Regions from separate parts of the Homo sapiens genome. Here region 2 is linked to region 1. Evidence: fine-mapped expression QTL. A gene starts in region 1. The other region holds a variant in brackets. All regions are shown on one strand. Distances are from middle to middle.

Region 1 (5,380 bases):
GGCTTTCACTTTTTCCTCTACACTTTTCTGTAATGTTTGGATTTTTAACAATAAATATGAAACACTTTTTTTTTTTTTTTTTTTTTTTTGATACGAAGTCTCGCTCTTGTTGCCCAGGCTGGAATGCAATGGCGCAATCTCGGCTCACCGCAACCTCTGCCTTCCGGGTTCAAGCGATTCTCCTGCCTCAGCCTTCCAAGTAGCTAGGATTACAGGCATGCACCACCACGCCTGGCTAATTTTGTATTTTTAGTAGAGATGGGGTTTCTCCATGTTGGTCAGGCTGGTCTCGCACTCCTGACCTCAGGTGATCTGCCCGCCTAGGCCTACCAAAGTGCTGGGATTACAGGAAATACTTTTATAATTCTGTAAAAACAAGAGAGATTTATATTTTGAGTAAAAAAGTAAAAATCTCAGAATGCAATATACTGGTTTTTATATCGTATTTAATACATGAGTAAGACACCAGGCTTGGTGGCTCACTCCTGTAATCCCAACACTTTGGAAGGCCAAGACAGGCTGATAGCTTGTGCATAGGAGTTCAAAACCAGTCTAAGCAACATAGCAACACCCCATCTCTACAAAAAATGCAAAAATTAGCTGGGCATTGTGGCATATGCCTGTGGTCCCAGCTACTCAGGAGACAGAGGTAGGAGAATCGCTTGAGCCCAGTAGGTTGAGGCTGCAGTGAGCTGTGATCACACCAGTGCACTCCAGCCTAGGTGACAGAGGGAGATCCTATCTCAAAAAAACAAAAAACCAACCAACCAAACAAACAAAAAACATGAGTGAAGAGGCATCACAAATTAGTGGGGCTGAGAATATTCAATATACAGTAATGGAGCAACAATTACCTTTTTTGGAGAAAAAAAGAGAAATTTAGGTCCTCTCAACACTATAAACGAAATAAGTTCCATGAGGATCAAGCAATTAAATTTTAAACTTTAAACATTAAAAAAATACAAAAATATAGTTAAATATATTTCTAATGTCTGGATGAGGAAAGAATCTAAGCAAACCCCAGAGACTGTACAAAAGAAACAATGATGGAGGTGAGAACAGAAACTTGTTATATTTCTATACAACAAAATTTCTGTAAATCAAAAATAAAAAGGCAAACAGCAAGGAAAGAGCTACAACAAATATGAAAAAGGGCAATTTTCCTAACTCATGTAGATGATTTTTTTAAACTGAACGATATATATCTGTGTATGTGTGTTTAATATACGTATCCTATAATCCCCTAACTCCAATTTTCCTTACTTAACTTTTCTAGCATCCACAAAATATGTTTTAGAAAAGAGTAGGCTAAATACATTTTCTTTGTCACTTTTTGCTAACGTAACAATTTCCAAGTTATAGCATCTTTTTTTTTTTCCTCCAAAACCACTCTGGGAAAAAAAAAAGTAGAGGGGCTGTTGTTAAAAGATGATGGGGGGGATCCCCTCGGTGACTGGAGTTTTCTGCCTTCTATTTCCTCCCTTCTCAAATTTCAAGCCCCATTGGTCAGTAAAAGAACACTGGTCCCAACAGCTAAAGAGACAGGAGTAGAGAGGAAGACAATGAGACAACGTCTTGTAAATAAGAAAGAGCCAGGGTGGTGGCCTGTGTCTGCAGTCCGGGCTACTTGGGATGCTGAAGTAGGAAGATCACTTGAGTCAGGCAGTTCCAGACCAGCCTGGGCAACATAGTGAGACCCTGACTCAAAACAAAACAACAATGAAGATTAAGAAAACCAGAAAGTGTCCTGAGGAGCAAAACAGATGACTAAAACATTACAGACTTAGCTATAAGGTTCTATATACAAGTAACACACGATTATATTGTCCTTGACAATAACAGATAAGGCTGCGCTCCCTTGAGAATGACAGATAAGGCGCAGGTACCTTTTGACCTAACCCCAGGCACTTCTCCCTTGCCTGGCAGTGACTACTGGTAAAATTGGCAGAGCTACTTATTTTACAAAATCTCCCAGACACTCGCCTAAGGGCCAGATGATCCCCATTTTAGAAAAGGAAAACAAAACTGTTCAACAACTTGCCTAAGGTCACAAGGCAAGCTTGTGGCCAGTTCCAATTCTCAGTGCTTGCTTCAGACTAGGAGAGGTTTTGCTGAAAATCAATTTGCAAGTCATCCTATTAAACACAAATCTGTTTTTTGCCAAAAAAGATCGCTGTGGGGGAAGATGTTATCTTGTTTGTTTTGATCAAGAAAAGAAAGGGCCTTATCTCAATGAAATGTCCCATTCGTGGTAGGATGTAAGGGTACTTTTGACCGCAGATTTCAGCTTAAAATAAAACGACCTTATATCCTCATTTAGCAGCCAATCATGGCCTTTGAATCGGGGAAACCTCATTGACCAGCAGTTTCCCCAAATCATACATTTCTGCACACAGCTTCTATCTAGGCGTAGGAGAGAACGGAAGCACTCAGACCACCCAGAGCCAGAAAAGGACAAAAAAAGCACTTTGAATTTTTTAAGGAAAAAAAAAAAAAAGAGTGAGATTCAAAAGCAATATAATTACACAAGGTAAGAACCGGGGAAAAGAGACATGTTTTCAAAAGCACAAACCCAGTAACAAACTCTCACGCCTGGAGAAAAAAGAGGCATGGCAGCTGGTGCGCCTCTTGCTTGAACCTACCTGCGTTCAGGCCCAGCAGCAGCGGCAGCAGCAGCAACCACCGCGGGACGGGAGAGCGCCGCAGTGCCAGCTCCATGACAAGTACCGCACGGCAGCATCAGCAACAGGCTGGACCCGGCGCCCCATCACGTGACGGAGGCGGACGGGGCGGGTCGGGGGCGGGGCCTGCGGGTCGGGGGCGGGGCCTGAATGGGCATGGGGCGGGGCCTGGGCGGACCCGGCAGCTTGCTGAGACCCGCACGCCCTCTGCCCGGCAAGCCCACCAGGACCCCTGCAAATGCGCAGGGGCCGTTCTGTCCGCCTGGCCAGGTTCTCTGTCATTTTAGGGAGAGTATTTCGGAAAGGAGACATTTGATGCAGATGTTGGATTTAGGTTGTGTGACCGGATCGAAATACTAAAGGGAATAACCACCGCCCTTTCTACCCCTCCCATCTCTTCCTTCCCTCAGCAAAAGAACCGACGTTTTCCAACACTGCTACATCTGCGAAGTCAGATTAAGCCAGCTGGTCGTTGGCAAACAGCGGGGTTTCATTTTCAGATATGTATTTTTTAAATTATTTTTCTTTTAAAGTTATGTATGTTATAAACGTTTTGGAAATATGAACAAAAAAGTTATACATAACTATTGTTGGCATTTTTTCCCATAGTCTTTTACGTCATTTTAAAAAACACTAATAAAGATTTTTATTTTTTTTTTCTTTTTTGATAATTTGTCATTAGTATTACTCTGTGTTACGTTATCTTCACAGCAGTCATTTTAAAGAGAGAATCGAGGGTCTGGGGACGGGAAAGGAAGAAAAAGTGGATGACAGAGCTGTTTTCCTCTGTGTGTGTGTGTGTGTGTGTGTGTGTGTCTGTCTGTCTGTCTGAAGGTCATTTTTACGTTAGAGGGTACTGAATAACTCACCTCACAGCTAGGAGACAAGCTACAGCAGGGGCTGTAGGAGAGGCTACTTCTAAATACTGCTTCAAAAGTACATGTAACAAAAAGCAAAAAACAAATCAAAGTACATGTGGCCACTTCTCCTCTTTCCCTGCTCCTTTCTCCCTCCCCTCGCCCTTGACCCCCATAAATGGAAGTGCTTTTTACTCTGCAGCCATTGTCTGGACAGAGCCTTGACCCCGCCCTGCCTGTGAGGTGCCCCTGCACTGAAAGCTGCGGCAGAGAAAAATATGCCGCCGGGTTCTGTCATGCTTTAAGCATGGGATGGTCCCGAATGCATAAAATCCATAATGCCTGGGCAACATATTGAGACCCCCTCTCTACAAAAAATAACAAAAATTAACTGATGTGGTGACACGCGCCTGCTGTCCAAGCTACTCAGAAGGCTGAGGTGGGAGGATCACTTGAGCCCAGGAGCTCCAGGCTGCAGTGAGCAGGTGTTCCATGCCATATGGGAGATACATAAAAGTACATGCTTAGTTAAAAATAAATAACTATCTAGCAAACTTTTCCTGTCTGAAGCTTCCAAGTTGGTCTGTATCACTAGGGCTTGAAATACACTTACCCTTCCACTGCAGTCAGAATTTTAGGGTTTCAATTTTTTTGCCACAAAAATAACACTACAGCCCAGGGCGCAAGGTGGCTCACACCTGTAATCCCAGCACTTTGGGAGGCCGAGGTGGGCAGATTACTTGAGGTCGGGGGTTTGAGACCAGCCTGGCCAACATAGTGAAACCCCATTTCTACAAAAATACAAAAATTAGCTGGGTGTGGTGGCACTTGCTTGTGGTCTTAACTACTCGGGAGGCTAAGGCATGAGAATCGCTTGAACCCAGGAGGTGGAGGTTGCAGTGAGCCAAGATGGTGCCACTGCACTCCAGCCTGGGTGACAGAGTAAGACCCCATCTCACACACGCACAAAAAAATTGTGCATTTTATAATACGCTAATATGACTTCAAAAGGAAAAAATATAAATAAAATGTCACCTCTAGTTAATGATATTCATATTAAAGTGTTTAGGGGAAGGTGTACCAATGTATACAATTTTCTTTGAAATGTATCCAGATGCTGGCACAGTGACCTATGCCTGTAATCCAGCTCTTTGGGAGACCAAGGTGGGATGATTGATTGAGCCTAGAAGTTTGAGACCAGCCTGGACAATATAGTGAGACCATGTCTCTTAAAAAAAAAAAAAGTATCCAGAATATAAGATGGATTGATGGATAGGATGGAAAGAAGGTTGGATACATGGATAAATACATGATATCAAGTATTACAGTAACATTTTCTTTTTTCATTACAGTTTATAATCACAGGAACAAAATAAACAAAAACCACATGTAGAAACCAGATTAAAGCTTGTTATCCTTACAGGCAGTGGCGAAATTCCAATCTTCAGGGTTGGAGTGGTCTTTGTTTAAGAAAAATACCTCCTTGGTTCATTGAAGTTAGGAGTTGGGAGCTGATGGCATAGTAGCTGCAGCCAAGGCAACAAAAGATAATTGCCAAACTGTGCGGCCCAGGAGAAATTTTGTTTTGCTCCTAGGAGAGGAAAGAAGAGAGAAAGATGAAAAGAAGTGAAGGCTACATATAGAGAAAGATTAGCCAAAGAGAGTTGAGGCTGGAAGAAGAGCCAGTAGAAATTTCTCCGATGAGGAGTGGCTATGTAATCCCCCAATGGGTTCTTTTTGCCTGCTGCCCAGATAGAGCCAGCCAATTTATGAAGGCAGGGGAATTGCAATGGGGAAACAGTTTAATTCATGCAGAGCTGGCTGAAAGGAAGACTGGAGTTT
Region 2 (5,380 bases), 31 kb before region 1:
TTGAGCCCAGAAGTTCGAGGCGGCTGTGATCGCACCACTGCCCTAAAGCCTGAGTGACTCTATCTCAAAAATAAAAAAGGATTCAATTTCAGAAGCAGAACGGTGTGTGCGTGTTTGCATGTGCACAGCCGTGCGTATGGGGGAAGGTGTAACAGGGATTTGACTTATGCAGTGTGGAGCTGGTTAAGAAGTCTTCATAAGGCTTTTGTCTCCAAATCTGATGCTGGAGATTGAAGTACACAGGGCAAGCAGTCAGGAAGGAACAAGGAATGTAAAGTGGAGAAGGACAAGAACAATGTGAATCCCACAAGCAAGAGATGGAGTCCATGGGACTGAAACGCATGTCAGTTCTTGGGTCCCTCTTAGTGCTAAGCACACTCACCTGGCCCGGGAAGCAGACATGCTCTAGGAGGATCCGGGGGAAGGGGGAGCAGCTGAGCTCAGCTGAGCTGAGCCAGCAGAAAAACGATAACATGCATGAATGAAAAACTGTTGCTGCTTCACTTCACCCTCCACATTTTCCGAAGAATTTCTCTTGTGGGCCACCCTAATCAGAAACATACAAGAAAGGTAATTCTGAAAAAGTTAGCCTAGGCAAGTTGAAACATTACAAAAACACTACAGTCCACCCCTTGTCAACTTGGCACCCATAACATTGCCTTAAACCACACTTAATCTCCAAATAAAGTCAATAACAAAGTCATACTCTGCTTACCATGACACAACTGTCCTTCCTATACCCAGAAATACACATCTTTTTCCCCAGAAGAGAATCAGAGTCCACTTTTTGTCTTTGGATGATGCTCATTCTTTTACTAGCTGTTTCACATTCCTTCCTTGACATCTTGTAATATAAATATTTATATGTAAAGTTAGGTACAAGCATTTTGGGAGGCCAAGCTGCGAGGATTGCTTTAAGCCAGGAGTTGAAGACCAGCCTGGGTAACATAGCAACACCCTGTCTCAAAAAAAAAAAAAAAAAAAAAAAGCCAGGCACAATGGTATGCACCTGCAGTCACAGCTACCTGGGAGGATCGTTTGAGCCCAGGAGATTGAGGCTGCAGTGAGCCGTGATTGCACCACTGCACTGCAGCCTCGGTGACAGAGCAAGACCCTGTCTTAAAAAAGAAAAACAAAAAAGGTTAAATACTATTAGCACATCAGAGACGATAAAGGAATGAGAGATAAAAACAAAAATATTTGGTTCACCAGATGCAGCTGTGGCTTATGCCTGTAATCCCAGCATTTTGGGAGGCAGAGCATTTTGGGAGGCAGAGGCGGGCAGATCACTTGAGCCCAGGAGTTTCAGACTAGCCTGGGCAACATGGTAAAACTTCATCTCTACAAAAAATACAGAAATTAGCTGGGTATGGTGGTGCATGCCTGCAGTCCCAGCTACTGGGGGCGCTGAGGTGGGAGGATCACTTGAGCCCAGGGAGGTGGGGGGTGAAGGCTGCAGTGAGCTGTGATTGTGCCACTGCACTTCAGCCTGGTTGACAGAGCATAACCCTGTCTCAAAAAAAAAAGTTTTTTTGTTAATATTTATTAAAATAGATTCACATCAAAAGAAGAAAGAAATACTCATAATTATTACAGTCCTCGTTTCTACAGTGGGTCACAAGGTCATAGTACTTATGACTGCCCTCATCTATGATTTATTCTGCGTATCTTTTGCCCTCGGCAAGCACTTCAGTTGGTCGTGGCTTTTTGCCTGATGGAATGACTTAAATCTTTTGTGAAGGGTCTGGGCCATTAGCGGTCTTAATTGGGTTGTTGTAGCTCTCCATTGACCTTAATCACAGGATATGGCAGTACTAGGGGGTGCCCCAAAGGATCTCCTGCATTCTTCCTTCTTACGTCCATTGTGTAGGAGCAACCCCATTTCCTCTTGATAGTCAGATCAATCACTGCAGACAGCACTTTGCCTGTTGATGCAGTGCCCAAAGAGGCCAGATGGTGGCTTCAAGCTCCAGTTCCACGGATTATCTGCTGTGTCTCCTAGAGAAAACATTTCTCCCGTTGTAACTAAGACCTCTAGACCAGCAAAACCTAAAGTTGCAGGGATGGGAAGCAAAAATTCTACCACTGGATCACTAGGGTTAACAGTGAGAGGAGTCGCTTTCATTTTTATCCCTTGATAACTGGACTCATGAATCCTGGGTATGGGAGAAACAAGGCGGTTGATTTAGAGCATGTACCACATACTGGAGGGCAGCACCCCAGCCCTGCAATCTATCCCCTCCTAGCTGGCCCTGTAACTGAATTTTCAGTCATTCAACCATCTGTCAGGGCAGTTGCTTCAAGAGGATGGGGAACATGGTGAGAGCAGTCAATTCCACTTGTGTAAATTCACTGCTGCCTTTCATTTGCTGTGAATACCATAGTCATGGATGAGACACTCCGTAGGTCCACAGATGCTAGTTTTGGCAGAAGCATTGTGGGAAAGGAAGGCACATCTATGTCCAGAGCAAGGGTTAATTCCATTGAAAACACAGTGCTGCCTGCCTCATAATAAAAGTGGTCCAATGTAATCAGCCTAACACCAGGTAGCCGGCTGATCTCTTCAGCAGTGATGCCACATTAGGGGCTCAGTGTTGTTTCTTCTGCTGGCAGATGGGGCACTCAGCAGTGGCTGTGACCAGGTCACCCTTAGTAAGTGGAAGCACATGTTGCCAAGCCCATGC[A/G]TAGCCTCCATCCCCGCCGCCATGGCCACTTTGTTCATGAGTCTACAGGAATGGCTGAAGGAGGCTAATAGCCACAGAATGGGTCATCTACCCACCTGATTATTAAAATCTTCCCTTGCCCTAGTTGAGTATTCAGATGGAAAACAATGATCTTCATACTCGGCCATTCAGAGATCTAATCTCATACCTCTTCCTCAGAGCTTCTTGTCATCAATTTTCTAATCAAGTTTTTTTTCTTTTTGAGACAAGGTCTCACCCTGTCACTCAGGCTGGAGTACAAATATGGCTCGCTGTAGCCTCAACCAACCTGCCAGGCTCAAGTGATTCTCCTACCTCAGCCTCCTACACAGCTGAAACCACAGAGGTGCACCAACATGCTGAGTTAATGTTTTTATTTTCTGTAGATACAGGGTGTTATCATCTTGCTCAAGCTGGTCTTGAACTCCTGGACTCAAGGGATTCTCCCACCTCAGCCTCTCAAAGTGCTGGTATTATAGGCATGAACCACTGTGCCCAGCCTTCTAATCAAGTTTCTTCCAAGTCCCTAAATACCCAGCTAAATCATGAATTGGTGCACTTATTCTTCTGTTCATTTCCCCTTCCAGGGAAAGTGAAGAGCTGAGTGCACTGTTCCAAGTTCTGTCCACTGGGAGGATTTCTCTTCACACCATCTTTCAGGGCTGTCCTGGAGTGTGGCCGTGGTGCCATAGCGGTCCACATTCAGGTGATGCATGCATACTGTGGAGCCCCGTCTGTAAATCAAGCCTGAGAGTTGTCTTCCTTTGTCAACTGATCACAGGGATTCCCTAGGAAGGTAGGGGTGTGGGTTGAGAGAGAATGTTATACAGCAGGAATAAGAGCCCTGGGCAAGTCTAGGAATTTACTACAAGATCTTAGGACAAGACATGATTAACCTGCCCGGACAGCAATGGAAGGGCGGCTTCTAATGGCCAAAAAGGTTTGAGGTCCCCTAGCTTCATCTGTGCAGGTGACTCATCTCAATGTTCAGAATTACATTTCTTCTCAATCAATGCACTAACTTTTAACAGAAGAGACTCTGTGAGGTTGGGAATTCAACTTGCTTTATGATTCACTGCTTTGTTGGATGGTTCACCAAGACTCACAAGGCTCAGTAGCAGGTTATACTAATAGCTAACATTTTTGTAACAAAAGATGCATATCAAAAGCGGCAGGTAAAAACGATACACATGGGTGATGTCCAGGGGTATCCAGCACAGGCTTCTAAGGTTCTTGCTTTCCATGGGCACACTGGAGTTCTTGCCAACAGTGAACCATAGGGACATGTGTAGTCTCTGTCCCAGGAGCCTGTTTTTAGTCTCAGGGTCTGAAGGGGTTAGTCACGTAGACATAACCTGCTGTTAACTGTTTCCTCACAGTCTGCAGGAATAAGCTTTGGGTTTGTTATTTTTTTTAATTAATTAATTTATTTATTTATTTTTGGGACAGAGTCTTGCTCTGTTGCCCAGGCTGGAGTGCAGTGGCGCGATCTCGGCTCACTGCAAGCACTGCCTCCCGGGTTCACGCCATTCTCCTGCCTCAGCCTCCCAACTAGCTGGGACTACAGGTGCCCGCCACCACGCCTGGCTAATTTTGTGTGTGTGTGTGTGTAGAGATGGGGTTTCACCGTGTTAGCCAGGATGGTCTCGATCTCCTGACCTCGTGATCTGCCCGCCTTGGCCTCCCGAAGTGCTGGGATTACAGGCTGGAGCCACCGTGCCTGGCTGTTTTTTTAAATCTCAGCCTTTGGCCAGGCTTGGTGACTCATGCCTGTAATCCCAGCACTTTGGGAGCCCAAGGCAGGTGGATTGCTAGAGCCTGGGAGTTCGAGACCAGCCTGGGCCACATAGTGAGACTCCAACTCTACGAAAAAATTTTAAAAATTAGCTGGATGTGATGGTGCTTGCCTGTGGTACTAGCTACTTGGGAGGCTGGGGCAGGAGGATCATTTGAGGCATGATTGTGCCACTGCACTCTAGCCTGGGTCACAGAGTCTCAATAAATAAATAAATAAAATCTCAGCCCTGCAACTACAAGAGGTGATATTTCTTTCAGACAGTCCTAGAAGCTGTTAGATCCCCTATGCAGATTTTTTTTTCTTTTTGAGATGGGGTCTCTGTCACCCAGGCTGGAGTGAGTGGCTTGATCATGGCTCACTGCAACATCAACCTCCCTGGCTCAAGTGATCCTCCTGCCTCAGCCTCCTGAGTAGCTGGGACTACAGGTGTGTGCCACCATGCTCGGCTAATGTTTTTATTTTTTTTGTAGAAATGGGGTCTCCCTATGTTGCCCAGGCTGTTGTTGAACTCCTGGGCTCAAGCATTCCTCCTGCCTCGACCTCCCAAAGTGCTGGGTTTATAGGTGTGAGCCACGGCATCAAACCTCCTTATGTAGATCTTGAGCTATGAATAAAAAGTTAAAAGTCCTGAGCTAATTATTTTGATTTTAAGGAAATGTGGCAATCCTCTGACTAAATAATTACACTTTTATGAATTTATTCTAAGAAAATAAGGAGGTACAAAAAAATCTAACTATCAGGGTGAATCAACAGAGCACTATGTATAATAGCAACAAACTAGAAATTATTATACTTGTCGGAAACAACTGGGAATTTTGTAAATAAACTAGAGTACAACCATAAAGTAGAATGCTCCACAGCCATTAAAAATGTTAGAGAA

Evidence for each region. PIP is the estimated chance that this variant, and not a neighbour inherited with it, causes the effect.
Region 2: its variant is fine-mapped to the expression of SCPEP1 in whole blood (TOPMed, PIP above 0.99).

What each region holds. Positions count from the first base shown.
Region 1 is chr17:56,975,498-56,980,877 of GRCh38, reverse strand. It overlaps SCPEP1 (serine carboxypeptidase 1), which reads right to left and starts at 2,747. Exons shown (of 13, transcript NM_021626.3): 1 at 2,643-2,747. The coding sequence starts at 2,718. LOC105371836 (a long non-coding RNA gene) reads right to left here. Exons shown (of 4, transcript XR_934875.4): 4 at 4,871-5,129. RefSeq lists a silencer at 2,805-2,864.
Region 2 is chr17:57,006,752-57,012,131 of GRCh38, reverse strand. It overlaps SCPEP1 (serine carboxypeptidase 1), which reads right to left. Exons shown (of 13, transcript NM_021626.3): 13 at 5,364-5,380. Among named protein-coding and RNA genes, the nearest start is that of SCPEP1, 31 kb to the right of the region's middle. RefSeq lists enhancers at 1,686-1,885, 1,522-2,151. The variant A/G (reference allele first, on the strand shown) is at 2,685.